Linked DNA regions of Homo sapiens: all the other regions are linked to region 1. Evidence: fine-mapped expression QTL. A gene starts in region 1. Each other region holds a variant in brackets. All regions are shown on one strand. Distances are between the middles of the regions. Region 1 holds the start of UBA7 (ubiquitin like modifier activating enzyme 7). Region 2 overlaps IHO1 (interactor of HORMAD1 1). Region 3 overlaps BSN (bassoon presynaptic cytomatrix protein). Region 4 has its middle 5.3 kb from the start of HYAL1. Region 5 overlaps BSN (bassoon presynaptic cytomatrix protein).

Region 1 (5,128 bases):
AGAGTTTTAAAAAGCAGGAATGGATATTGAATTTCCTTAAATACTCTTTGGAGTCTATTAAAGATAGCATTTTACTTCAAAATCCAGCCCTGGTTTCTGTACCTAGTACTTCTGTCACACCAGTAAATGTTATTGAATGAAAACAAACAAAAGACCATAAAGACATACCTCTTCACGTTCACTAGGATTGGTGTCATTTTTTTAAAAAAAGGAAAGAAAAATAACCAGTATTGGCAACAGTGTGGATATATAGAAATTTTTGTATATTGCTGGTAGGAATATAAAATAGGGAAAACGGTTTGGTGGTTCCTCAAAAAGTTCAACATAAACCCAGGCGCGGTGGCTCATGCCTGTAATCCTAGCACTTTGGGAGGCTGAGGTGGGAGAACTGTTTGATCCCAGGAGTTTGAGACCAGCCTAGGCAATATGGTGAGACCTCATCTCTACAAAAAATTAGCTAGGCATGGTGGCGCATGCCTGTAGTCCCAGCTACCTGGGAGGCTAAGACAGAAAGATCACTTGAGCCTGGAAGGGAGTTTGAGGCTGCAGTGAGCCCAGATTGCGCCACTGCACTCCAGCCTGGGTGACAGAGTGATATCCTGTCTCAAAATAAATAAATAAATAATAAACAAACACAGAATTACCATATGACCCAGCAACTCTACTCCTGTGTATATGCCCAAAAAAGCTGAAAGCCCAGGCGCTGTGGCTTACACCTGTAATCCCAGCACTTTAGGAGGCCGAGGCACTTGACCCCAGGATTTTGAGACCAGCCTGGGCAACATAGTACTTGTTCAAGAATCAGGCTGGGCATGGTGGCTCACACCTGTAATCCCAGCACTTTGGGAGGGCAAGGTGGGAGGATCACTTGAGGCCAGGCATTCGAGACCAGCCTGGGCAAGATAGCAATACCCACCCCCAATCTCTACAAAAGCAAGTAATTAATTAGGAAATTAGCCAAAGCCAGGTGCGGTGGCTCACGCCTGTAGTCCCAGCACTTTGGGAGGCTGAGGTGGGCAGATTGCTTGAGTCCAGAGATTCGAGACCAGCCTAGGCAACATATCAAAACCCCGTCTCTACTAAAAGTAAAAAAAGAAAAATTGCACTCTGGGAGGCCAAGGCGGGGGGATCACCTGATGTCAGGAGTTCAAGACCAGCCTGGCCAACATGGTGAAACCCCATCTCTACAAAAATACAAAAGTTAGCCGGGCATGATGGCAGTGTCTGTAATCCCAGCTACTCAGGAGGCTGGGTCGGAAGAATCATTTGAATCCAGGAGGCGGAGGTTGCAGTGAACCAAGATTGTGCCATTGCATTCCAGCCTGGGTGACAGAGCAAGCCTCCGTCTCAAAAAAAAAAAAAAAAGAAAAATTAGCCAGATGTGGTGGTGCATGCCTGTGGTCCCAGCTACTCAGGAGGCTGTGGTGGGAGGATTGCTTGAGCCCAAGACACTGAGGCTGCAGTGAGCCATGATCACACCACTGCACTCCAGCCTAGGCAACCAGAGTGAGACCCTGTCTCAAAAACAAACAAACAAACAAAAACCACTTTAACAGGGTATGGTGGTGCACACCTCTAGTCCCAGCTACTTGGGAGGTTGAGGCAGCCGGATCACTTGACCCCAGGAGATCGAGGCTGCAGTGAGCTGTGATTGTGCCACTGCAGTCCAGCCTGGGCAACCGAGTGAGACTGTCTCAAAAAGAAAAAAAAAAAAAAAAGGACATAGCAGCACTATTCACAAATCCAAAAGTTAGAAATAACCCAGATGTCCATCAACAGATGAATGGATAAACGAATTGTGGTATATACATATAATGGACTATTATTCAGCCATTAAAAGGAATGAAATATTGATACAGGCTATAAACTCTATGAACATTGAAAACATTCTAAGTGAAAGGAAATAGACATAAGAGGTCACATTTTGCAATTCTTTTTTTTTTTTTTTTTTTTTTTGAGACTGAGTCTCACTCTGTTGCCCAGGCTGGAGCGCAGTGGCTCGATCTCAGCTCACTGCAACCTCCATCTCCCGAATTCAAGCAATTCTTCTGCCTCAGCCTCCCGAGTAGCTGGGATTACATGTAGGCATGCACCACCATGCCTGGCTAATTTTTGTACTTTTAGTAGAGATGGGGTTTCACCATGTTGGTCAGGCTGGTCTTGAACTCCAGACCTCAGGTGGTCCACCCGCCTTGGCCTCCCAAAGTGCTAGGATTACAGGTGTGAGCCACCATGCCCGGCCACATGTATGGTAATTATTGAATGTGTTTGGTATGTTCGTTGTGGGTGATGAAATATTTTGGAACTAGATAGACGTGATGGTTGAACAACACTGTGGATGCACTAAATGCCACTGAATTGTACACTTTAAAATTGTTAACTTTATGTTACATGAATTTCACCTAAATTAACAACAACAACAAAAAAGAACTTAAGACAGCACTTGGTTTGGCTATTACGTAGTTTCGTGACAAACAGTGGTCCATCTCCCAGAGAACTGGCCCCAGGTTCCTAAGAAGGCAAAAGGAGACACAGGACCTCTCTGCACTATTTTTTTTGCAACTTCTTATGAGTCTATAATTATTTCAAAATAAAAGTCTAAAAGGAAAATAAGAACATGTGTGAATGTGGCTGCCCCATGCCTCCCACCCTCAGGTCTGACACTCAGAGACTGATCACCTCTTGAGAGTCCTGGAACTCATCCCAGGTTTTAGACCCTGAATGGCCTGTCTGGGGCTGGCGTCTGGAGGCAGGATCAGGAGCCAGCTCAGAGCATAGTTTAACTTTCACTTTTCTTTTCTCCAGGAAGAGAGCTGTGACCAGCAGCGTCCCTTATTCGCTTGGCCTTGGTTCCTGTTTGCACTGGCTACAGCAGGGCACTGGCCCCTACTGTCACCGCCACCTACACAAAGACCCTATCTCTGAGCGCTGCAGCCTACTGTTCAGCCCCAGGTTTGAGGATGGATGCCCTGGACGCTTCGAAGCTACTGGATGAGGAGCTGTATTCAAGACAGCTGTGAGGCCCGAGGTGGGGGGTGGAGAGTGGGATGGTCTTCAGACCTTGATCTACAACTGCTTGCCTTCTGCTTCCCATCCACAGGTATGTGCTGGGCTCACCTGCCATGCAGAGGATTCAGGGAGCCAGGGTCCTGGTGTCAGGCCTGCAGGGCCTGGGGGCCGAGGTGGCCAAGAACTTGGTTCTGATGGGTGTGGGCAGCCTCACTCTGCATGATCCCCACCCCACCTGCTGGTCCGACCTGGCTGCCCAGGTAAGTGTCCTGGGGGGCTATGGGCTGCCAGACCAAGGTGGGGGCACGGCCCAAGAGGAGTGTCTTTGCTCAGGCTGCACTGGCTCTCTCCCTAGTTTCTCCTCTCAGAGCAGGACTTGGAAAGGAGCAGAGCCGAGGCCTCTCAAGAGCTCTTGGCTCAGCTCAACAGAGCTGTCCAGGTCGTCGTGCACACGGGTGACATCACTGAGGACCTGCTGTTGGACTTCCAGGTCAGCTCAGGCCTGCAGCCCTCAAGAGCAGGAAGGGCTGGGCAATGGTTTTGGCCCTGCTGATCACTGTGTCCACCCAGGTGGTGGTGCTGACTGCTGCAAAGCTGGAGGAGCAGCTGAAGGTGGGCACCTTGTGTCATAAGCATGGAGTTTGCTTTCTGGCGGCTGACACCCGGGGCCTCGTGGGGTGAGTAAGACTGCCTGCCCAGCCTACCATATTACAGCCAGCAACTGGCCTCATGCTGTCCTCAGCTCCAGGCTTGCTCCAGTGCCCCTCCAACCAGCCTCAGGTCTATCCCAGCATGCCTTTCTGATTCTGGTCCCCAGTCCTGCCCTCTGGTTCCTCCAACCTAGCCTCCAGACCTGCTCCAGTAACCCTCTCAAATTCTAGTTCCCAAGCCTCTCCTTGCATTCCTTTCCCAATTCTGGCCCTCTGGCCCTGCCCTAGTATCCCCTATCCTTAAGTACAATCTGTAAGCCACCTCAGTGACCCCTACCACCCCATCTCAGGCAGTTGTTCTGTGACTTTGGTGAGGACTTCACTGTGCAGGACCCCACAGAGGCAGAACCCCTGACAGCTGCCATCCAGCACATCTCCCAGGTGGGTGCTGAGCTGTAGGCATTCACCTGCTGACCAAGGAGAGGCTGCCAGGGCCTGTGGAAGGCAGGTCCAGGCAACCCTGAGCCAAGCCTCCTCCTACCCAGGGCTCCCCTGGCATTCTCACTCTGAGGAAAGGGGCCAATACCCACTACTTCCGTGATGGAGACTTGGTGACTTTCTCGGGAATTGAGGGAATGGTTGAGCTCAACGACTGTGATCCCCGGTCTATCCACGTGCGGGGTAAGCCAATCCCATTCCAATTCCAGGTGCAGGGCCCAAGCCTCCACTGGAAGTGAGCACAGCCTGGCCCTTGGGATGGGTTTTTCTCCCTCCACCTTCTACAAGGTGCAGCAAGGTCTGGGACACAGATGCAAGATAGGATGGGGTGTGGGAACTACTCAGGCTCAAGGATCATTACTGACTAGACTGGAACTCCCTCAGAGGATGGGTCCCTGGAGATTGGAGACACAACAACTTTCTCTCGGTACTTGCGTGGTGGGGCTATCACTGAAGTCAAGAGACCCAAGACTGTGAGACATGTGAGTGCAAGTGCATCTGAGGTAGGGGAGCTTGGTCGCCTTGAGGGGCCCATAGCATTCTGGACTAGACCCTGAGCCAGGTGCCCTTGCAGAAGTCCCTGGACACAGCCCTGCTCCAGCCCCATGTGGTGGCCCAGAGCTCCCAGGAAGTTCACCATGCCCACTGCCTGCATCAGGCCTTCTGTGCACTGCACAAGTTCCAGCACCTCCATGGCCGGCCACCCCAGCCCTGGGATCCTGTGAGTAGTCCTGTTGCTCCCACCCCCAGCCTCTGTCATTTATTGGGGTCCCACCTGCCAGAGGCAACAATGACCATTCACAAATCCAAGTCTGATCTCCCAACACTGCAGCCTTTAGAGTAGAGACTGGTTCCATGGAAGTGCCAGGCACACATCCTGGGGACTCCTGCTACACCCCGACCCCTCAGATCTGTGCTGGAAGCTGCACTCAGATTAGTGAAGCCTCCTGGACTGCTGTCTGGTACTGGGC
Region 2 (5,000 bases), 590 kb after region 1:
AAACCAACCTTGGTGGTTCAGAGAGGACAGAAAATGGAGCATGCCAATTACCTGGTAGGGCTTGTTACCAGTGTGGTTTGCAAGGACACTTTAAAAGAGTGTCCAATGAGAAACGAGCTGCCCCTTCACTTATGTCCATTATGCCAAGGCAATCACTGGAAGGTGCACTACCCCAGAGGACAAAGGTCCTCTGGGCCACAAGCCCCCAACCAGATGATCCAACAACAGGACTGAGGGTGCCCGGGGCAAGCGCCAGCTCATGTCATCACCCTCACTGAGCCCTGGGTATGTATAACCATCGAGGGCCAGGAAATTGACTTCCTCCTGAACACCGGCACGGCCTTCTCAGTGTTAATCTCCTGTCCCGGGCGACTGTCCTCAAGGTCTGTTACCATCCAAGGAGTACTGGGACAGCCTGTAACCAGGTATTTCTCCCACCTTCTCAGTTGTAATTGGGAGACTTTGCTCTTTTCACATGTCTTTCTTGTTGTGCCTGAAAGTCCCACACCCTTATTAGGGAGGGATATATTAGCCAAAGCTGGAGCTATTATCTACATGAATATGGGGGAATAAGTTACCCATTTGTTGTCCCCTACCGGTGGAGGGAATCAACCCTGAAGTTTGGGCATTGGAAGGAACAAACTCAAGCTCCAGCCTTAAGCCTTCCCACAGGACAAAACTTTTCTTTTTTTTTTTTTGAGACGGAGTCTCACTCTGTCACCCAGGCTGGGATGCGATGGCGCAATCTCTGCTCACTGCAACCTCTGCCTCCTGGGTTCAAGTGATTCTCCTGCCTCAGCCTCCTGAGTGGCTGGGATTACAGGCACCCACCACCATGCCCAGCTAATTTTTTATTTTTAGTAGAGACGGGGTTTCACCATGTTGGTCAGGCTGGTCTTGAACTCCTGACCTGATGATCTGCCCGCCTCAGCCTCCCAAAGTGCTGGGATTACAGGCGTGAGCCACTGCGCCCAGCCAAAACTTCTCTTTATACATCACAGAGAGAGCAGGGATAGCTCTTGGAGTCCTTACTCAGACCCGCAGGACAACCCCATAACCAGTGGCATACCTAAATAAAGAAACTGATGTAGTAGCAAAAGGCTGGCCTCACTGTTTACGGGTAGTTGCGGCAGTGGCCGTCTTAGTGACAGAGGCTATCAAAATAATACAAGGAAAGAATCTCACTGTCTGGACTACTCATGTAAATGGCATACTAGGTGTCAAAGGAAGTTTATCGCTATCAGACAACTGCCTACTTAGATACCAGGTGCTACTCCTTGAGGGAATGGCCCTTCAAATACATACATGCGTAGCCCTCAACCCTGCCACTTTTCTCCCAGAGGATGGGGAACCAATCAAGTGTGACTGCCAACAAATTATAGTCCAGACTTATGCCGCTCAAGATGATATCTTAGAAGTCCCCTTAGCTAATCCTGACCTTAACCTATATACCGATGGAAGTTCATTTGTGGAGAATGGGATACGAAGGGCAGGTTATGCCATAGTTAGTGATGTAACCATACTTGAAAGTAAGCCTCTTCCCCCAGGGACCAGCGCCCAGTTAGCAGAACTAGTGGCACTTACCAGAGCCTTAGAACTGGGAAAAAGAAAAAGAATAAATGTGTATACAGATAGCAAGTATGGTTATCTAATCCTACATGCCCATGCTGCAATATAGAAAGAAAGGGAGTTCCTAACCTCTGGGAAGAACCCCCATTAAATACCACAAGGAAATTATGGAGTTATTGCACACAGTGCAAAAACCCAAGGAGGTGGCAGTCTTACACTGCCAAAGCCATCAGAAAGGTGAGGGAGAAAAGGCAGAAGGAAACCGTCAGGCAGATGCTGAGGCCAAAATTGCTGCCAGGTGGAACCTCCCATTAGAAATACCTACGGAAGGATCCTTGGTATGGAACAACTCCCTCCACGAGATTAAGCCCCAGTATTCCCCGACTGAAACAGAATGGGGACTTTCATGGGGGCATAGTTTTCTCCCCTCGGGGTGGTTAACAACAGAAGAAGGAAAGGTACTTATGCCTAAAGCCAGACACCAGAAAATACTTAAAACGCTCCACCAAACTTTTCATATGGGTATTGAAAACACTCATCAAATGGCCAAATCCCTATCTACAGGGCCAAATCTCTTCCGGGCCATCCAACAGGTAGTCAAAGCCTGTGAGGTGTGCCAAAGGAAGAATCCTTTGGTCCATCGTAAGGTCCCTTTGGGGGAACAAAGAATAGGTCACTATCCTGGAGAGGACTGGCAGTTAGACTTCACCCATATCCCTAAGTCAAACGGATTTCAATACTTGTTGGTCTGTGTTGATACCTTTACAAATTGGATAGATGCTTTTCCCTGCAAGACAGAGAAGGCTCAGGAAGCAATTAAAGTCCTAATACATGAAATAATTTCTAGATTTGGGCTTCCCCAAAGCTTACAGACCAACAATGGTCCGGCTTTTTTTTTTTTGAGACGGAGTCTCACTCTCTCTCCCAGGCTGGAGTGCAGTGGCGTGATCTCGGCTCACTGCAAGCTCTGCCTCCCGGGTTCGCGCCATTCTCCTGCCTCAGCCTCC[C/T]GAGTAGCTGGGACTATAGGTGCCCACGACCACACCCAGCTAATTTTTTTTATTTTTAGTAGAGACGGGGTTTCACCGTGTTAGCCAGGATGGTCTCAATCTCCTGACCTCGTGATCCGCCCGCCTCGGTCTCCCAAAGTGCTGGGATTACAGGCATAAGCCACACACCTGGCCAATGGTCAGGCTTTTAAAGCCATGATAACTCAGGGAATTTCGAGGGCACTAGGGATACAATATCACCTTCACTGTGCCTGGAGGCCACAATCCTCAGGGAAGGTCGAGAAAGCAAATGAAACACTCAAAAAGCACTTAAGGAAACTAACACAAGAAACTCATCTCCCATGGCCTAGTCTTTTGCCCATGGCCTTGTTAAGAATCTGAAATTCTCCTCACAATATGGGGCTCAGTCCATATGAAATGCTGTATGGACAACCTTTTATCACAAATGACCTCCTACTTGATCAGGAAACGGCCAACTTGGTCAAATACATAACTTCTTTGGCAAAATATCAATGAAACCTTAAAAACCTACCTGAAGGATGTCACAGAGAAAAGGGAACAGAGTTGTTTCAACCAGGAGATCTAGTGTTGGTCAAATCTCTCCCATCTACCTCTCCATCTATGGATTATTTGTAGGAAGGACCATACTCGGTAATCCTTTCTAACCCCACTGCAGTTAAGGTGGCAGGAGTGGAATCTTGGATTCACTACAATTGAGTTAAATTTTGGACACCCCCTGCGGAACCTGCAGGACCGTCAGTTCAGGAGTCCCAAGATCACCCAGACCAGCCTCAATAAACTTGCGAACCATTGGAGGACTTGCATCTCCTATTTTGAAAGGAAATATCCCAGACTAAAAAGGCTCCTACCACTGATCCTGAGGAAAAACCCTTTCCTCCTTAAAAAAGATAAGTGAAAACCTACATAATCTTTAATACCTCTCCTTGCCCCTTTAATGGAATCCTTTTACTATTTCATAATATTATTAAGCAGCATACTAACCATACTCTTTACGATAGGACTACATACTATAGCTCCTGCTGGGATGCAAATCCTAATCACATCAACCTTTTTTCTATCTTCCTTCCTTCTGACAGCAATTTACTCCCACCTTTAACTCAGACTGGATAAAATGATCTCGTGTTCCAGAGCACCCTCCTTACCTTCCTATTTACTCTTTGCCTATCTATCCCTCCTGCTTCCTTGGACACCTCATACAATTGCCCCTCCCCTTCCCCTAGCTCCTAATTACCTGTACAAGACTCTCAACTTAACCCACTCTCTGTTAAACCAGTCCAATCCTTCCCTGGCAAATGACTGTTGGCTTTGTAGCTCTCTATCCGTCAGCGCAGAGCCATACAACTAATACCCCTACTTATAGGGTTAGGAACAGCTATGGCTACAGAAACCAGAATAGCCAGTTTATCTACTTCATTATGCTACTACCACAGACTCTCAAAGGATTTCTCAGACAGTTTGCAAGAAATGACGAAATCTATCCTTACTCTACAATCCCAAATAGACTCTTTGGCATCACTAACTCTCCAAAACTGCTGAGACCTAGACCTCCTCACTGCTGAGAAAGGAGGACTCTGCACCTTCTTAGGGTAAGAGTGCTGTTTTTACACTAACCAGTCAGCGATAGTACAAGATGCCACCCGGCGTTTATAGGAAAAGGCTTCTGAAATCAGACAGTGCCTTTCAAACTCTTATACCAGCCTCTGGAGTTGGGCGACAAGGCTTCTCCCCTTTCTAGGCCTCCTGACAGCCATCTTGCTATTACTCGCCTTCGGGCCCTGTGTTTTAACATCCTTGTCAAATTTGTTTCCTCTAGTATCGAGGCCATCAGTCTATAGATGGTCTTACAAATGGAACCCCAAATGAGCTCAACTAACAACTTCTACCAAGGACCCCTGGATTGACCCACTGGCCCTTTGGCTGGCCTAGAGAGTTCCCCTCTGGAGGACACTACCACAGCAGGGCCCCTTCTTCGCCCCTAACCAGCAGGAAGTAGCTATAGCGGTCATCACCCAATTCCCAACAGCAGTTGGGGTGTCCTGTTTAGAGGGGGGATTGAGAGGTGAATCCAGCTGGACTTCCTGGGTCGAGTGGGGACTTGGAGAACTTTTCTGCCTAGCTAGAGGATTGTAACTGCACCAATCAGCGCTCTGTGTCTAGCTAAAGGATTGTAAATGCACCATCAGCACTCTGTAAAAAACGCACCAATCAGCACTATGTGTATAGCTAAAGGATTGTAAACGCACTAATCAGCACTCTGTAAAAATGCACCAATCAGTGCTCTGTGTCTAGCTAAAGGATTGTAAACGCACCAATCAGCACTCTGTAAAAATACACCAATCAGCGCTCTGTGTCTAGCTAAAGGATTGTAAATGCACCAATCAGCACTCTGTAAAAATGCACCAA
Region 3 (5,128 bases), 150 kb after region 1:
CTATGCACGGCCTGGCTCTTTAGGGTCTAAGAGGGCAAGTACCCACGAGAGAATCTGAACACAGGTACCCTATAAGGTGGGAAGGTGAGAAGGAGGCTAGGGAAATAAAGAGAAGAAGGTAAGAACAGGAAGACAAGGGGTGGGAGAAGGCAGAAAAAAGGAGGTTGAGGAAGGGAAAGAAGAAGAAAGGGAAAAAAAGGCAGAGAAGAGCAGGAAAGGGGAAGGAAGGAGGGAGCAAGAAGCCATGGTCCCCACCCTGTGCTCACCAGTGCCTTCCTGCTTCTCTGCCCAAAGCTGCTTGGGCCCTAAAGCCCCTGTGCTGGTGACCTCATTGGCTTATTCTAACCCCAGGCTTGTTTTCTGCTGGGGAGGTCTACAGCCCCTGGGGCACCTTCTCAGGGATTAGTGAGGGCATGCAGTGTGGGGGAGCTCAGGGCACAGGTGGTATAGAGAGAGAACAGCCTGGGTGCTCTGGGCCACAGCCAAGGGTGTCAAAGGATAGGCTCACCTGCAGGTCCAGGTCCTGGTGCTGGCTGGGCCTGAGGAGCCCTCCCCTGTTGCGGTGCTTTGGCTGTCCCTTTAGAGCCATTTGTCTGTTCTGCCCGTGGCTGCAACACAGAACCTATAGCTAAGATTCTGCCCATGCCCAGCCTGGAACCAAGGGGATGTCCAAGCTTCATTCATAGCATCTTCCCTGGTTACAACCCATGCATGGGAGCTCTGCTTACCGGTCCTGCTGGTTGAGGACCTGTGGCTGTGCTGGGGCCTGGCTGAGGCTTCCCTGCAGGCTGGCTGGCAGCAGGGGCTGAGCCCCGGGTGGTTGGCTGGCTCTGTTGCTGCAGCCGAGCCTGTGTCAGAGCCTGCTGTGGGGGCTGCAGCCCAAGACCTTGCTGCTGCTGCTGTGTCTGTGGCTGGCGTGATGCTGCCCCAGAGGGTATTTGCCTGGATGATGGTGACTGTGACTGCTGTGGTCCTGGAGCTGCCTGCCGACCTTGCAGCTGCGGCTGCGCCTGGGGTTCTGCCTTTGACTGCAGTGCAGCGGGCCCGGAGTGGGCTTGCCGGGAGCCCTTCTTGCTGTCAGAGGCATGATGGTATGCGGATGAAGCACGGGATGGCTGTGAGTACTCAGCAGAGCTGGGATACCCAGGCTGACCCTTCTTCGGCATAGCTGGAGCAGAGCTGGGCTGAGAGTGGGGCCGGGCCTCATGGCGACCCAGGTCCCGAGCGTGTGGTTTGGCAGCACGCCGTCCCGGCTCCTCACCAGTGTGGCGGCCTGAGTGCCGCCCGTGGTCACCGTGCCGGTGTTCCTTGGCTGAGGCATGGCGGCCTGGGCCACCCTCATCATGAGGCCACAGGCCCTCCTCAGGGGGTTCATCGTAGTCATGGTAGCTGTGCCTGGCAGGGCCTCGCTTCTGGGAGGAGGAGGAAACTGCATGGCCCCCGTGGTGCCTGAACCGGTCAGAGCGGGCATCCCGGGGCTTATCAAACCAGTCCGTCTCCTCCTGGCCCAGGTGATACGCTTCAGAGACCAAAAACAGAATACCATCAACCCCCGGGCTAGCCGCAGGGGGAGGCCTAGCTGAAGCCATGCAAAGAAACCAAGAGAGTGGGTGCCACAGCCACAAGCAGATCAGCAGGCCCCCAGCCCACCCTCCCGCAACCACGGACCAGGGCACAGATGGAGCAGGCAAGGGCAGCCTGCCTGCAGCAGGGCCCACCAGATGAGGCGCCAGACCAGACCCTGCTGGGACATCTTAGGGCCCAGGGCCCCACAGGTAGGCAGGCCCCCCAGCTGCTGAGTATCCGCAGAAATCACCCCTGGCTGCCATTACCTTCGCTGTCGGAAACCACGCAATGGGAATCATCCAGGATGTAGCCCTCCTCACGCTTATATGCGTGGGCCCGAGGTCCGTCCTTGACATGTTCCTGGACATCAGGCATGGAGTGGCTGGAGCAGAACTGTGGGCAGGTATCCCCGCCGGGAGGGAGGGGCCCTCCGGCAGGGCGGGGCCTCCCCAAAGGACTGACGGGGCTCTCCTCTTCAGAGGCCTGGCTCCGCATGGGGGGTCGTACCCGGCTGTGGGCCATACTTAGGGATGAGGGCTTGGGGCCCGCTTTTTGAAGTCGCTCCACAGCCTCCCGTTCCCTTTCGTACCCCTTGCCCCAGCCACTGAAGTCGTGGCTGGACAGCTTCTCCCCACTGTATGCAGAAGGTGCCCGGGACCGGCTGCTCCCGCCATAAATGCGGTCGTCCTCCACTGCGTCCCGGCTGGACATCCCATAGTATTTTTGCTGCTCATACACGTTCTTCTTGAGCCCATAGGTGATTTCATCCTGGAACTTCCTGCCCCGAGAGACCAGGCTGCTGCTGACTGCAGGTGGGGGGTAGGACGCCAGGTCTGACTCTACGTCTTTGGCCTCTTCAATAGGCGAGAACTTGGATATCTTTTGCTCCATGCCCTGCTTCCGGTGCTTGCTGCGCTTTGAGGAGATGGCAGCTGGAGCCAGGCTCTTGGAGGGATGCTTGGGCCCCATGGGCCCTGGACCATACTTCTCTACTCGAGCCCCATGCCTGTAGTCACTGTCACCATAGTAGTGGGTACTGGCTGGTCGACCATTGCTCTCCATGCTCCGGAGGTGGCCACCCTTCCCGCGGGGATCGTATGAGTCCTCCTCAGATTCCTCTTCTCCTCTGGCATAGCAGCAGGGCAGTGTGGGCCCGTCAAGGACACCTGGTTCTCCAGGCTCCTTCCCTGGACGCCCACTGCTGCCTGGCCCCAGGGGCTCCAGCCGTTGGCTATCAGGAGCAGTAGAGGTGCTGTCCTTGGTCAGTTCACTGATGTCATCAATCATTACGTAGTTTCGAGGAACGTTCTGCTCCAGACTGGTATAGTGTGAGTCAGAGGGGTAGGTGGGG[G/T]CTGGGCTCTGGCTCACACTGCCACGGTCACCAGCCCGGGGCACCTCAGGGACCTTGCCCTGCTCATAGCCGCTGCTCACTGCTGGGCCACTGTAGCTGGTTTCAGATGGGGCTGAAGACATGGGCACAACGGGGCTGGCGATCACCTCATAGTTGGTGGGCACCTTCTGCTCCAAGTCGGCTAGCGATGTCTGGCGTGGCTTCTGCAGTGGGGCACGGCTATCAGCGGGGACTGGAAAAAGGGTGCTCTGTGTGGTTGGCATGGGTGTTTGGCCTGCATAGTGGCCTGTGGGGCGGAAAGCCTGCTGGTTTGGCAGGCCAGGCTCAGCTGGGTAACTGGCACCAGGAGGAAAGGCAGGAGCTGGGTACGTGCTGGGGCCAGGGTAGGTGGGGGCCTGGTGGGCTGGGAATCCGTTCTGAGTTGGCCCACCACTGCCTGCAGAATACTGTGGGGCTGGAGGCTGGAAGCGGGGCTGCTGGAAGGCAGTGGGACCAGAGGGGGTGGCAGGAGCAGCGGCAGTGGCAGGGAAGTCCACAAACTGGCCAGCGGGAGTGGTGCAGCCCTGGAGCCGCAGCTGGTTGAGCTCACTGTCCGATAGGTAGTCACGATGCTCGCCAAGACCACGCAAGGGTGGGTAGTCACGGCCACCCCGGTCTTTGGCCAAAGACTCTTTGCGTTGTGTGATACCCAACTCCAGGTACTTGAGCTTGGCGTCAATCTCCTTCTCCTCCTCATCCAGCTCTGCCTGCTTCTTGCGCAGTTTGGTGGACTCATGCTCCACCAGCCGCAGGTCCCGGTCCAGCTCCCGGAGCAGGCTGGCCTTGGTAGCAGGGACAGTGGTGGGCCCCGTCAGCCCTCGCTGCAGCAGGCTGGCTGCATACAGCTGTGGGGAGGCCTGGCCAGCCAGGGGAAGGTGAGCCTCCTCTGGAGGGGGGCTGGGCAGTGTCCGCTTCACCTTGCGGACCAGGCTGTTGGGTGGCAACGCCGACACCTGAGACAGAGGGAAGGGTGGGCAGCACTGAGACCCAAGGTGTGGTGACTTGATGGGGTGTGGGGTGGCAGAACCCAGGCCTGGGCTGGGGAAGGAGCTGGGTTCCATCTTGCTGGTGCCCTGATTTACCAGGCAGCCTGGAGGCCTACCCTGCCCACCCATAGGCCTTGGTTTCTTTGCCATAGAGGGAAGATCTGTGATTATTTTACAGCCCTTCTCTTTCCCAGAGCTTTGGGAAGCAGGAGGGTACGGGCAGATTCCCTTCATGCCAATGTCCTGTACTGGCCCAGCACATGGCTTTGAGAACCCCTGCACATCTCCAATGGGCCTGCCACCCTCTGCCTCACATTGAGGTAAGAAGAGTACAGCTGTGGCTCTGGGTTTGGGGCCTAGCAGCTGACAGGGGTTGAGATCAGTGGAGTATGAACAGGAGGCATGGAGTGGAGAGGGTCCTGGGCCCGCCAGGCTCCCTAGAGGATCATGGGAAGGGACACATGTAGATTGTATGCCAATCGTGGCAGGCTCTGAGTCATTCTGCATCCTGCCCTAGTCCTCTCTAAAGTGGAAGGCTCCTCAGCTGCCTGCCCACCCTCTTCCTCTAGTGCCCTGCACTGCCCTCTGCCAAACCCTCTGGGCTGTGCTCTTGGCCTGGTCCCCAGCTCCCTCCATGTCCCTCGGTCAACCTGCTGTTCTCTGGAGCCACCAGTGCACCCGTAAGTCCTATCCAGCCCTACCTCCAGCAGCATGGCTTCCTGGTCAAGGTTCCCTAACAGTGCCTACCATGGGGTCCTCCTTGCCTACCCTAGACACTCTGCATTGCCTGAAGGTCCACATTGCCTGGTAGTTCACTCTGTCTTCTCCCTTTTTCTCTCGCTCCTAGCCTTCCCAGAATGCCCCATGCCCTTGGGTTTCATGGACCACCCAAATTCCAATATATACTGGGAAGTGACTCCTATAGGATTCTTACTTTTTACCTTGCCAAGTAACTACCTAAAAACCTCCCACCTACATCCACCATATGTCATAATAAAAATTATAGTGTGCCCTCAAAATTTCAGGGTGGGCCTTTTATGGAATAAATTTAGCCTTTTGAACCCCTCACTCTGTTGTCTCTTTTCTTATTTTGGCCACGCATCATGAGTGCCTATCATGGCCTGGTCTCACATGGCCAGCCCATGGGACCTCTGTGCCTGCAGCCAGGACCACCCTGCCTCTCTGA
Region 4 (5,128 bases), 490 kb before region 1:
GGGGGGTCAGCCCCCCGCCTGGCCAGCCGCCCCATCCGGGAGGTGAGGGGCGCCTCTGCCCGGCCGCCCCTACTGGGAAGTGAGGAGCCCCTCTGCCCGGCCAGCCGCCCCGTCCGGGAGGGAGGTGGGGGGGTCAGCCCCCCGCCCGGCCAGCCGCCCCGTCCGGGAAGGAGGTTGGGGGGTCAGCCCCCCGCCCCGGCCGGGAGGGAGTTGGGGGGGTCAGCCCCCCGCCCGGCCAGCCACCCCGTCCGGGAGGTGAGGGGCGCCTCTGCCCGGCTGCCCCTACTGGGAAGTGAGGAGCCCCTCTGCCCGGCCACCACCCCGTCTGGGAGGTGTACCCAACAGCTCATTGAGAACGGGCCATGATGACAATGGCGGTTTTGTGGACTAGAAAGGTGGGAAAGGTGGGGAAAAGATTGAGAAATCGGATGGTTGCCATGTCTGTGTAGAAAGATGTAGACGTGGGAGACTTTTCATTTTGTTCTATACTAAGAAAAATTCTTCTGCCTTGGGATCCTGTTGATCTGTGACCTTACCCCCAACCCTGTGCTCTCTGAAACATGTGCTGTGTCCACTCAGGGTTAAATGGATTAAGGGCGGTGCAAGATGTGCTTTGTTAAACAGACGCTTGAAGGCAGCATGCTCGTTAAGAGTCATCACCACTCCCTAATCTCAAGTACCCAGGGACACAAACACTGCGGAAGGCCGTGGGGTCCTCTGCCTAGGAAAACCAGAGACCTTTGTTCACTTGTTTATCTGCTGACCTTCCCTCCACTATTGTCCTGTGACCCTGCCAAATCCCCCTCTGCGAGAAACACCCAAGAATGATCAATAAAAAAATAATAATTAAAAAAAAAAAAGAAAAAAAAAAGAAAAGAAACCACAGTGGCCGATTGCAGTGGCTCACTCCTGTAATCCCAGCACTTTGGGAGGCCGAGGCGGGCAGATCACGAGGTCAGGAGATCGAGACCATTCTGGCTAACACGGTGAAACCCCATCTCTATTAAAAATACAAAAAAAAAATAGCCGGGCGTGGTGGTGGTTGCCTGTAGTCCCAGCTACTCAGGAGGCTGAGGCAGGAGAATGGCGTGAACCTGAGAGGCGGAGGTTCAGTGAGCTGAGACCCTGCCACTGCACTCCAGCCTGAGTGACAGAGCGGGACTCTGTCTCAAAAAAAAAAAAAAAAACACACAGCTTAGTTTTCAGTGACTCCAAATTAGGAAAATGAAAAAAAAGAAGGAAAAAAATTGAAAACTTAATTTGAAGACTTGTAGCCAAGAAAAATTCATTCCAAACTGTAGAAAATCATAAAAATTGGAAGCAAACAAACAAAAAAACAGTTAAGACTAGAATCTAACAACAGGTGAACATTCGTTTTGAAACATGATTTTATTCTCTCTCCAATTTCCCATTTTACTAAAGACAAATCATGGTATGACTTGTTTGCTTATTATACTTGGCCTAAATATTTGTATACAGTGCAGCAAGAATAATTTATTTTGTCCCATAAGAGGAATCTCAGGTAAGACTTTTTAAAGCCCTGCCCAGCCATGGATTTGTGCCATCAAATACCCATGAGTTGGATGGAATTTCCTCTCCTTTCAAGTTCCAAGATAAACATAAACCTGGGGCCTCTGTGCCTGTCAGAAAGTGACATCCTTTTTTTTTTGATCAGGCTAGTCTTGAATTCCTGACCTCAGGTGATCCTCCCGCGTTGGCCTCCCAAAGTGCTGGGATTACAGGCATGAGCCACCACTCCTGGCCCCAGAAAGTGACATTCTTTACTTACCACAGGTAAGAAATCCTGTACAGGGACTGTGTACACAAAATGTGAGGCCAGTTTTCCCAAGGGCTTTATTGGCTCCATAAGTTAAGTTTGATTCCTTAAACGAAAGCACACCATTCCTGTCAAAGTCTTGGTCAAATAATCAATTCCTCCAATTGTGTCCTGTTACAAATGAAAACAGATTCTTTTTTTTTTTTTTTTTTTT[G/TG]GTGGAGTCTGGCTCTGTTGCCCAGGCTGGAGTGCAATGGTGCAATCTCAGCTCACTGCCACCTCTGCTTCCCAGGTTCAAGCGATTCTACTGCCTTAGCCTCTGGAGTAGCTGGGATTACAGGCATGTGCCACCATGCCCAGCTAATTTTTGTGTTTTTAGTAGAGATGGGGTTTTGCCATGTTGGCCAGGCTGGTCTCGAACTCACAACCTCAGGTGATTTGCCCACCTTGGCCTCCCAAAGTGCTGGGATTACAGGAGTGAGCCACCATGCCAGGCAAAAACAGATTCTTATGGCACTTATGCAAATAACTGTATTGCCATAAGTTAAGAATACTCACAAATAGTTTCCAAATTCTGGAGAAATCAGGTAGAGAAACAAATATGCTCCAAATTTTGTTCATAGGACTGTACTAAATTGTTAAAAGCTGTTGGCCAGGCACGGTGGCTCACGCCTGTAATCCCAGCATTTTGGGAGGCCGAGGCAGGCAGATCACGAGGTCAGGAGTTCAAGACCATCCTGACCAACATGCTGAAACTCTGTCTCTACTAAAAATACAAAAATTAGCCAGGTGTAGTGGTGTGCACCTGTAATCCCAGCTACTCGGGAGGCTAGGGGAGGAGAATCGCTTGAACCCAGGAGCCAGAGGTTGCAGTGAGCCGAGATCCTGCCATTGCACTCCAGCCTGGGTGACAGAGTGAGACTTCGTCTAAAAAAAAAAAAAAAGGCCAGGCACGGTGGCTCATGCCTGTAATCCCAGCACTTTGGGAGGCCAAGGTGGGCAGATCACGAGGTCAGGAGATCGAGACCACGGTGAAACCCTGTCTCTACCAAAAATACAAAAAATTAGCCGGGCGCGGTGGTGGGCGCCTGTAGCCCCAGCTACTCAGGAGGCTGAGGCAGGAGAATGGCATGAACCTGGGAGGTGGAGCTTGCAGTGAGCTGAGATCGCGCCACTGCACTCCAGCCTGGGTGACAGAGCGAGAATCCATCTCAAAAAATAATAATAATAATAATATATAATACGACAACGTGGCCTGACATGGTGGCTCACGCCTGTAATCCTAGCATTTTGGGAGGCCAAGGCAGGCGGATCACCTGAGGCGAGGAGTTTGAGACCAGCCAAGCCAATATGCTGAAACCCCATGTCTACCAAAAATACAAAAATTAGCCAGGTGTGGTGGCACATGCCTGTAAACCCAGCTACTGGGGAGGCTGAGGCAGGAGAATCACTTGAACCCAGGAGGCAGAGGTTGCAGTGAGCCAAGATTGCACCACTGCACTTCAGCCTGGGCAACAAAGCAAGACTCTACCCTGAAGAAAAAAGTATACGACAACTTGATTATATAAAAGTTTTTGGGTTTTTGGCCGGGCACGGTGGCTCACACCTGTAATCTCAGCACTTCTGGAGGCCGAGGCAGGTGGATCACGAGGTCAGGAGATCAAGACCATCCTGGCTAACATGGTGAAACCCTGTCTCTACTAAAAACACAAAAAAATTAGCCAGGCATGATGGCGGGCCCCTGTAGTCCCAGCTACTCAGAAGGCTGAGGCAGGAGAATGGCGTGAACCCGGGAGGCAAGCTTGCAGTGAGCCGAGATTGCGCCACTGCACTCCAGCCTGGGTGATAGAGCGAGACTCCGTCTCAAAAAAAAAAAAAAAGTTTTTGGGTTTTTTGTGACTTACACTGACTGTTCATGACATGGTTGGACTTTCCAATTTGTTCTGAACATCCCTCCTTTTTATTTATTTTGGGTTTTTTTTTTTTTTTTTTTTTTTTCAGATGGAGTCTTGCTCTGTCACCCAGGCTGGAGTGCAGTGGCATGATCTCCGCTCACTGCAAGCTCCGCCTCCCGGGTTCACGCCATTCTCCTGCCTCAGCCTCCCGAGTAGCTGGGACTACAGGCGCCCACCACCACGCCCAGCTTAATTTTTTGTATTTTTAGTAGAGACAGGGTATCACCATGTTAGCCAGGATGGTCTTGATCTCCTGACCTTGTGATCCGCCCGCCTCGGCCTCCCAAAGTGCTGGGATTACAAGCGTGAGCCACTGCGTCCGGCCCTATTTTGGTTTATTTTTTATTTTTTATTTTTTTCTTGAGACTGAGTCTTGCTGTCACCCAGGCTGGAGTGCAGTGGCATGATCTCAGCTCATTGCAACCTCTGCCTCCCAGGTCAAGCGATTCTCCTGCCTCAGCCTCCCAAGTAGCTGGGATTATAGGCACACACCACTAAGCCTGGCTAATTTTTGTATTTTTAGTAGAAACAGGGTTTCGCCATGTTGGCCAGGTTGGTTTCAAACTCCTGACCTCAAATGATCCTCCTGCCTCAGTCTCCCAAAGTGCTAGGATTATGTGTGAGCCACTGCACCCGGCTTATTTTTTTTTTTTTTTAGCAGAGTCTTGCTCTGTCACCCAGGCTAGAGGGCAGTGGCGCAATCTCAGCTCACTGCAACCTCCGCCTTCCAAGTTTAAGTGATTCTCCTGCCTCAGCCTCCTGAATAGCTGGGATTATAGGTGTGGGCCACCATGCCTGGATAATTTTTGTGTTTTTGTTGTTGTTGTTGTTGTTGTTGAGATGGAGTCTTGCTCTGTCACTGAGGCTGGAGTAACAGTAGCATGATCTCGGCTCACTGCAACCCCCACCTCCCAGGTTGAAGCAATTCTCCTGCCTCAGCCTCCTGAGTAGCTGGGATTACAGGCACCCACCACCATGCCGGGCTAATTTTTGTATTTTTAGTAGAGATAGGTTTCACCATGTTGGCCAAGCTGGTCTCAAACTCCCGACCTCAGGTGACCCGCCCACCTCGGCCTCCCAAAGTGTTGGGATTACGGGTGTGAGCCACCACTCCCAGCCAAAAAAAATTTTTTTAATCTTATTACCATATTTCAGCTAGAACAAAATGCTGCTAAAGTAACAATGATCACACAAAGTATATGATTTCTGAGTGCTGTAAGTGTAAGCAGAAGTTAACACCAGCTGGTTGTTAAATGCTAACTTTAGTCATTTAAAGGAAATTGCAAGGCAGAATCCCAAGCCAGTTTCTTACCTAGTGATGGGTCTCAGGCTGTAGACTGCTCTCTACCATCCCAGAAGCAGGAAAAAAAAACTAATTTTCCCTGTTGGAAGCGAGCTC
Region 5 (5,128 bases), 230 kb after region 1:
AATAAATAAATAAATCGGATTGCAAGAGAATACTATGAACAACCACACATCCTTAGGTAATTTAGATGAAATTGACAAATTCCAAGATGCAAACTATCAAAACTGACTCAGGAAGAAATGAAAAATCGGAATAGACCTATAACACATAAATAAACTGAATAAGTAATTTTAAAACTTCCCACAAAGAAAAGCTTATGCTCAGTTGTCTTCACTGGTGAATCCTACTAACCATTGAAAAAGAATTTATTTTTTAAAAATTTTATTTTATAACAGACAGGGTCTTGCTCTGTCATCCAGGCTGGAATGCAGTGACACAATCATAGCTCACTGCAGCCTCGAACTCCTGAGTTCAAGTGATCCTCCCACCTCAGCCTCCCACAGTGCTGGGATTAGAGGCATGAGCCACTGTGCCCAGCCAAAAATAAATTAATATCAACAAAGATACTACAAGAAAACTACAGATCAATTTTCCTTATGAAAAGAGATGCAAACATCCTTAAGAAAATACTAGCACACTGAATTCAGCAGCATATTAGAAGTATTGTACATCCTTCTATTGGGCTTTATTTCTGGAATGCAAGGTTGACTGAACATCCAAAAATCAATCAATGTTCCAGACACAGTGGCTCACACCTGTAATCCCAGCACTTTGGGAGGCCGAGGTGGGCAAATCACTTGAGGCCAGGAGTTTGAGACCAGCCTGGCCAATATAGTGAAACCCCATCTCTACTAAAAATACAAAAATTAGCCAGGAGTAGTTGCACGCACCTGTAATCCCAGCTACTCTGGAGGCTGAAGCAGGAGAATCTCTTGAACCTGGGAGGCAGAGGCTGCAGTGGGCCAAGATTGCACCACTGCACTCCAGCCTTGGGAACAGAGCAAGACCCTGTCTCATAAATAAATAAATAAATAAATAAATAAATAAATGTAATACACCATATTAATAGAATGAAGGGAATGAAGGGAAGAAACTATATGTTTACCTCAATTGATGCAGAAAAAGCATTTGACAAAAGTCAATACACTTTCATGATTCAAAAGACTTAAGCTAGAAATAGAAGGGAACTTTCTCAATATGATAAGGACTATTTATGAAAAGTTCACAGCTAACATAATACTCAATAGTGAAAAATTAGAAGCTTTCCCTTTACAATCAGAAACAAGACAACGATGTGCAAGGAAGTTTTACCATTTCTATCTAACATAGTACTGGAAGTCCTAGTCAGAGCTATTGGGCAAGAAAAAAAATAAATAAAGGACATCCAAATTGGAAAAGAAGAAGTAAAATTATCTCTACCTGCAGACCACATGATCTTACATGTAGATAACCCTAAACAGGCCACAAAAAAGTTAGAACTAATAAACAACTTCAGCAAAACTGAAGGATATAAAATCAACACACAAAAGGCAGTTCATTTCAGCTGGGCCTGTAGTTCCAGTTCCTCAGTAGGCTGAAGCAAGAGGGTTGCTTGAGCCCAGAAATTTGAGCCTGTAGTGTGTTATGACTGCAAATGTAAATAGCCACTGAACTCCAGCCTGGGCAACACAGCAAGACCCTGTCTTGAAAACAAAAATAGGCAAAGGACTTGAACAGACATTTCTCTAAAGATTTACAAATGGCCAATAAGCCATTGATTAGAAAAATGCAAATCAAAACTACAATAAGATACCACTTCACACTCTTTAGGCTATTACTAAAAACAAACAAAATAAACAGAAAATAACAAGTGTTGACAAGGACGTGGAAAAATTGGAACCCTCATACAATGATGGTGGAAATGTAAAACGGTACAGCTGCTACAGAAAAATTTTTGGCAGCGCCTCGAAAAGCCTAACATAAAATTACCATATGATCCAGGAATTCCACTCTTAGGTTTATATCCAGAGGAAGTAAAACCAGGGACTTGAACAGATACTTGAATGCCAATGTTTATTACACCATTATTCACAATATAGTAGCCCCCACTTATCCTCAGGGGATATGTTCCAAGACCCCCAGTAGATGCCTATATACACAAAGTTTGTTTTTTTTTGTTTTGTTTTTTGGGTTTTTTTTTGAGACAGAGTCTTGCTCTCTCTTCAGGCTAGAGTGCAGTGGCGCGATTTCGGCTCACTGCAACCTCTGCCTCCTGGGTTCAAGCAATTCTCCTGCCTCAGCCTCCCAAGTAGCTGGGACTACAGGCGCGTGCCACCATGCCCAGCTAATTTTTGTATTTTTAGTAGAGACAGGGTTTCACCATGTTGGCCAGGATGGTCTCGATCTCCTGACTTTGTGATCCGCCCACCTCGGCTTCCCCAAGTGCTGGGATTACAGGCGTAAGCCACCATGCCCAGCCTTGTTTTTTCCTACATATACAAACCTATGATGAAGTTTAATATATAAATTAGGCACAATAAGAGATTCACAATAACTAATAATAAAATAGAACAGTTATAACAATATACTGTAATAAAAGCTATATGAATGTGTTCTCTCAAAATATGATTGTACCATACCGTGGGTAACTAAAACCACAGAAAGCAAGACCGCAGATAAGGGGGGACTACTGGAGTCAAAAAGTAGAAACAACCCAAGTGCCCATCAATAAATGGATAGGCCAGGCGCAGTGGCTCATGC[C/G]TGTAATTCCAGCACTTTAGGAGGCTGAGGTGGGCAGATCACTTGAGGTCAGGAGTTCAAGACCAGCCTGGCCAACATGGCGAAACCCAGTCTTTACTACTAAAAATACAAAAATTAGCCTGGCATGGTGGCACACTTCTGTAGGCCCAGCTACCTGGGAGGCTGAAGCATGAGAATCACTTGAGCCCGGGAGGCAGAGGTTGCAGTGAGCCAAGATTACACCACTGCACTCCAGCCTGAGTGATGAGAGCAAAACCCTGTCTCAAAAAGAAAAAAAAAAAAAAGTTAACAGGCGCTGAAGAAAGGGGTCAATGGGGAGGTGCTGGTTAATGGTCAGAGTTTGGGGTGATTAAAAATTTTAGAAATAGATAGTGGTGATGGTTGCACAACATGAATCATGAATATACAGTAATTAATGCCACTAAATTGTACACTTAAAATGGTTAAAATGGCAAATTTATGATATTTATATTTTATCACCATTTTTAAAAGATTAATAATGTGACCAGGCACAGTGGCTCATGCCTGTAAATCCCAGCACTTTGGGAGGCAGAGGCAGGAGGATTGCTTGAGTACAGTAGCTCGAGACCAGTCTAGACTATATAGTAAAACCTGATATCTACAAAATATTAAAAAATTAGCCAGACATGGTGGTGCATGACTGTAGTCCCTTTGGGAGGCTGAGATGAGAGGACTGCTTGAGCCCGGGAGGCTGAGATGAGAGGACTGCTTGAGCCCAGGAGGCTGAGGCTGCAGTGCGTCATGATCGCACCACTGCACTCCAGCCTCGGTGACAGAGCAAGATCCTAAAAAAATTTATAATGTAATACGTAATAAACCACTGAATTATACTCTTTAAATGGGTAAATTTTCTGGCATATTAATTATATCTCAATAAAACTGTCTTAAGATTTCATATTAATCTTTCACAAACTCTTCCAAAAAATAGAACAGGATAAAACACTTCTCAACTCATTCCATGAGGCCACAATTACCCTGATATCAAAACCACACATAAATTGGATGTGGTGGCACATGCCTGTAGTCCCAGCTACTCAGGGGAATAAGGTGGGAGGATCACTTGAGCCCAGGAGTTTGAATCTAGCCTCAGGAACATAATGAGACCCTGTATCTAAATAAAATGAAATAAACAAAATAAAATAATCAAATTAAATTTGTAAAAAAACAGACATAAACATCACAAGAAAACTTTAGACCAATATATCTTGTTACTATAGATGCAAAAATTATAAACAACTACTAGCAAAACAAATCCGGTGACATATAGAAAGGATTTAATATAATAACCAAATGAATTTTTCTCAGACATGCAATTATGGCTTAACATCTAAAAAATCAATTAATATAGCATATTAATAGAATGATGGACAAAAACCATCTATCAAGATTACAAAAACTACATGATCATCTTGATAGATGCAGAAAGCATTTCATACCTTTTCCAATTCAATACCTTTTTATGCTTAAAAAAATTTAACAGACTAGAAATAGAAAGGAATTTCAATTTTTTAAAGCGCATCTAGCCAGGTGCGGTGGCTCACACCTGTAATCCCAGCACCTTGGGAGGCCGAGGCTGGTGGATCATGAGGTCAGGAGTTCGAGACCAGCCTGACCAACATGGTGAAACCCTGTCTCTACTAAAAATACAAAAAAAAAAGAAAGAAAGAAAAAATCAGCTGGGCGTGGTGACGGGCGCCTGTAATCTTAGCTACTTAGGAGGCTGAGGCAGGAGAATTGCTTGAACCCTGGAGTCGGAGGCTGCAGTGAGCAGAGATCCTGCCACTGCACTCCAGCCTGGGCAACAGTGCGAGACTCCGTCTCAAAAAAAAAAAAAATTGTAAAGCGCATCTATGAAAAACCCATACCTAAAATCATACTTATTGATAAATGGATAAAATGTGGTACATCCATACAATGAAATATCACTGGGCAATAAGAAGGAAAGAAGTAACTGGCTGAGTGCAGTGGCTCATGCCTGTAATCCCAGCACTTTGGGTGCCTGAGACAGGAGGATCACTTGAAGCCATGAATTTGAGACCAGCCTGGGCAACATAGGAAGATTCTGTCACTTAAAAAAAAAAAAAAAATTAGCCAGGCATGGTGGTGCATGCCTGTAGTCCTAGCTGCTTGGGAGGCTGAGGTGGGAGGATCTCTTGAGCCCAGGAGTTTGAGGTTACAGTAAGCCATGATCATACCACTGTACTCCAGCCTCCATGTCCTCTGGGTGACAGAGTAAGATTCCCTCTCTAAACAAATAAATGAATAAAGGAATGAAGTGCTGATACACACTACATCTTACATCCTGGATGAGCCTTGGAAAACACACTAAGTGAAAGAAGCCAAACCCCCAAAACACACATTGCATGATTCCATTTATATGAAATGTCCAGAATAGGCAAATCTAGAGAGGTGGATAGTAGATTAGTGGTTACCTTAGGCCTGGAGGATAGATAGAGGGGGGAAGAATGGAAAGTGACATTTTGGGTATGG

The links. PIP is the estimated chance that this variant, and not a neighbour inherited with it, causes the effect.
Region 2: its variant is fine-mapped to the expression of UBA7 in whole blood (TOPMed, PIP above 0.99).
Region 3: its variant is fine-mapped to the expression of UBA7 in whole blood (INTERVAL, PIP 0.96).
Region 4: its variant is fine-mapped to the expression of UBA7 in whole blood (INTERVAL, PIP above 0.99).
Region 5: its variant is fine-mapped to the expression of UBA7 in whole blood (INTERVAL, PIP above 0.99).

What each region holds. Positions count from the first base shown.
Region 1 is chr3:49,811,620-49,816,747 of GRCh38, reverse strand. It overlaps UBA7 (ubiquitin like modifier activating enzyme 7), which reads left to right and starts at 2,795. Exons shown (of 24, transcript NM_003335.3): 1 at 2,795-3,016; 2 at 3,101-3,269; 3 at 3,365-3,499; 4 at 3,580-3,686; 5 at 4,010-4,100; 6 at 4,205-4,340; 7 at 4,542-4,639; 8 at 4,732-4,878. The coding sequence starts at 2,961. RefSeq lists enhancers at 2,672-3,061, 4,789-5,128.
Region 2 is chr3:49,221,161-49,226,160 of GRCh38, reverse strand. All of the region lies in intron 2 of IHO1 (interactor of HORMAD1 1), which reads right to left. Among named protein-coding and RNA genes, the nearest start is that of IHO1, 24 kb to the right of the region's middle. The variant C/T (reference allele first, on the strand shown) is at 2,577.
Region 3 is chr3:49,659,267-49,664,394 of GRCh38, reverse strand. BSN (bassoon presynaptic cytomatrix protein) reads right to left here. Exons shown (of 12, transcript NM_003458.4): 6 at 1,833-3,909; 7 at 729-1,519; 8 at 509-608. Among named protein-coding and RNA genes, the nearest start is that of APEH, 13 kb to the left of the region's middle. The variant G/T (reference allele first, on the strand shown) is at 2,918.
Region 4 is chr3:50,306,325-50,311,452 of GRCh38, reverse strand. It overlaps a transcript of HYAL1 not described here. Among named protein-coding and RNA genes, the nearest start is that of HYAL1, 5.3 kb to the right of the region's middle. The variant G/TG (reference allele first, on the strand shown) is at 1,992.
Region 5 is chr3:49,578,752-49,583,879 of GRCh38, reverse strand. All of the region lies in intron 1 of BSN (bassoon presynaptic cytomatrix protein), which reads right to left. Among named protein-coding and RNA genes, the nearest start is that of BSN, 27 kb to the right of the region's middle. The variant C/G (reference allele first, on the strand shown) is at 2,618.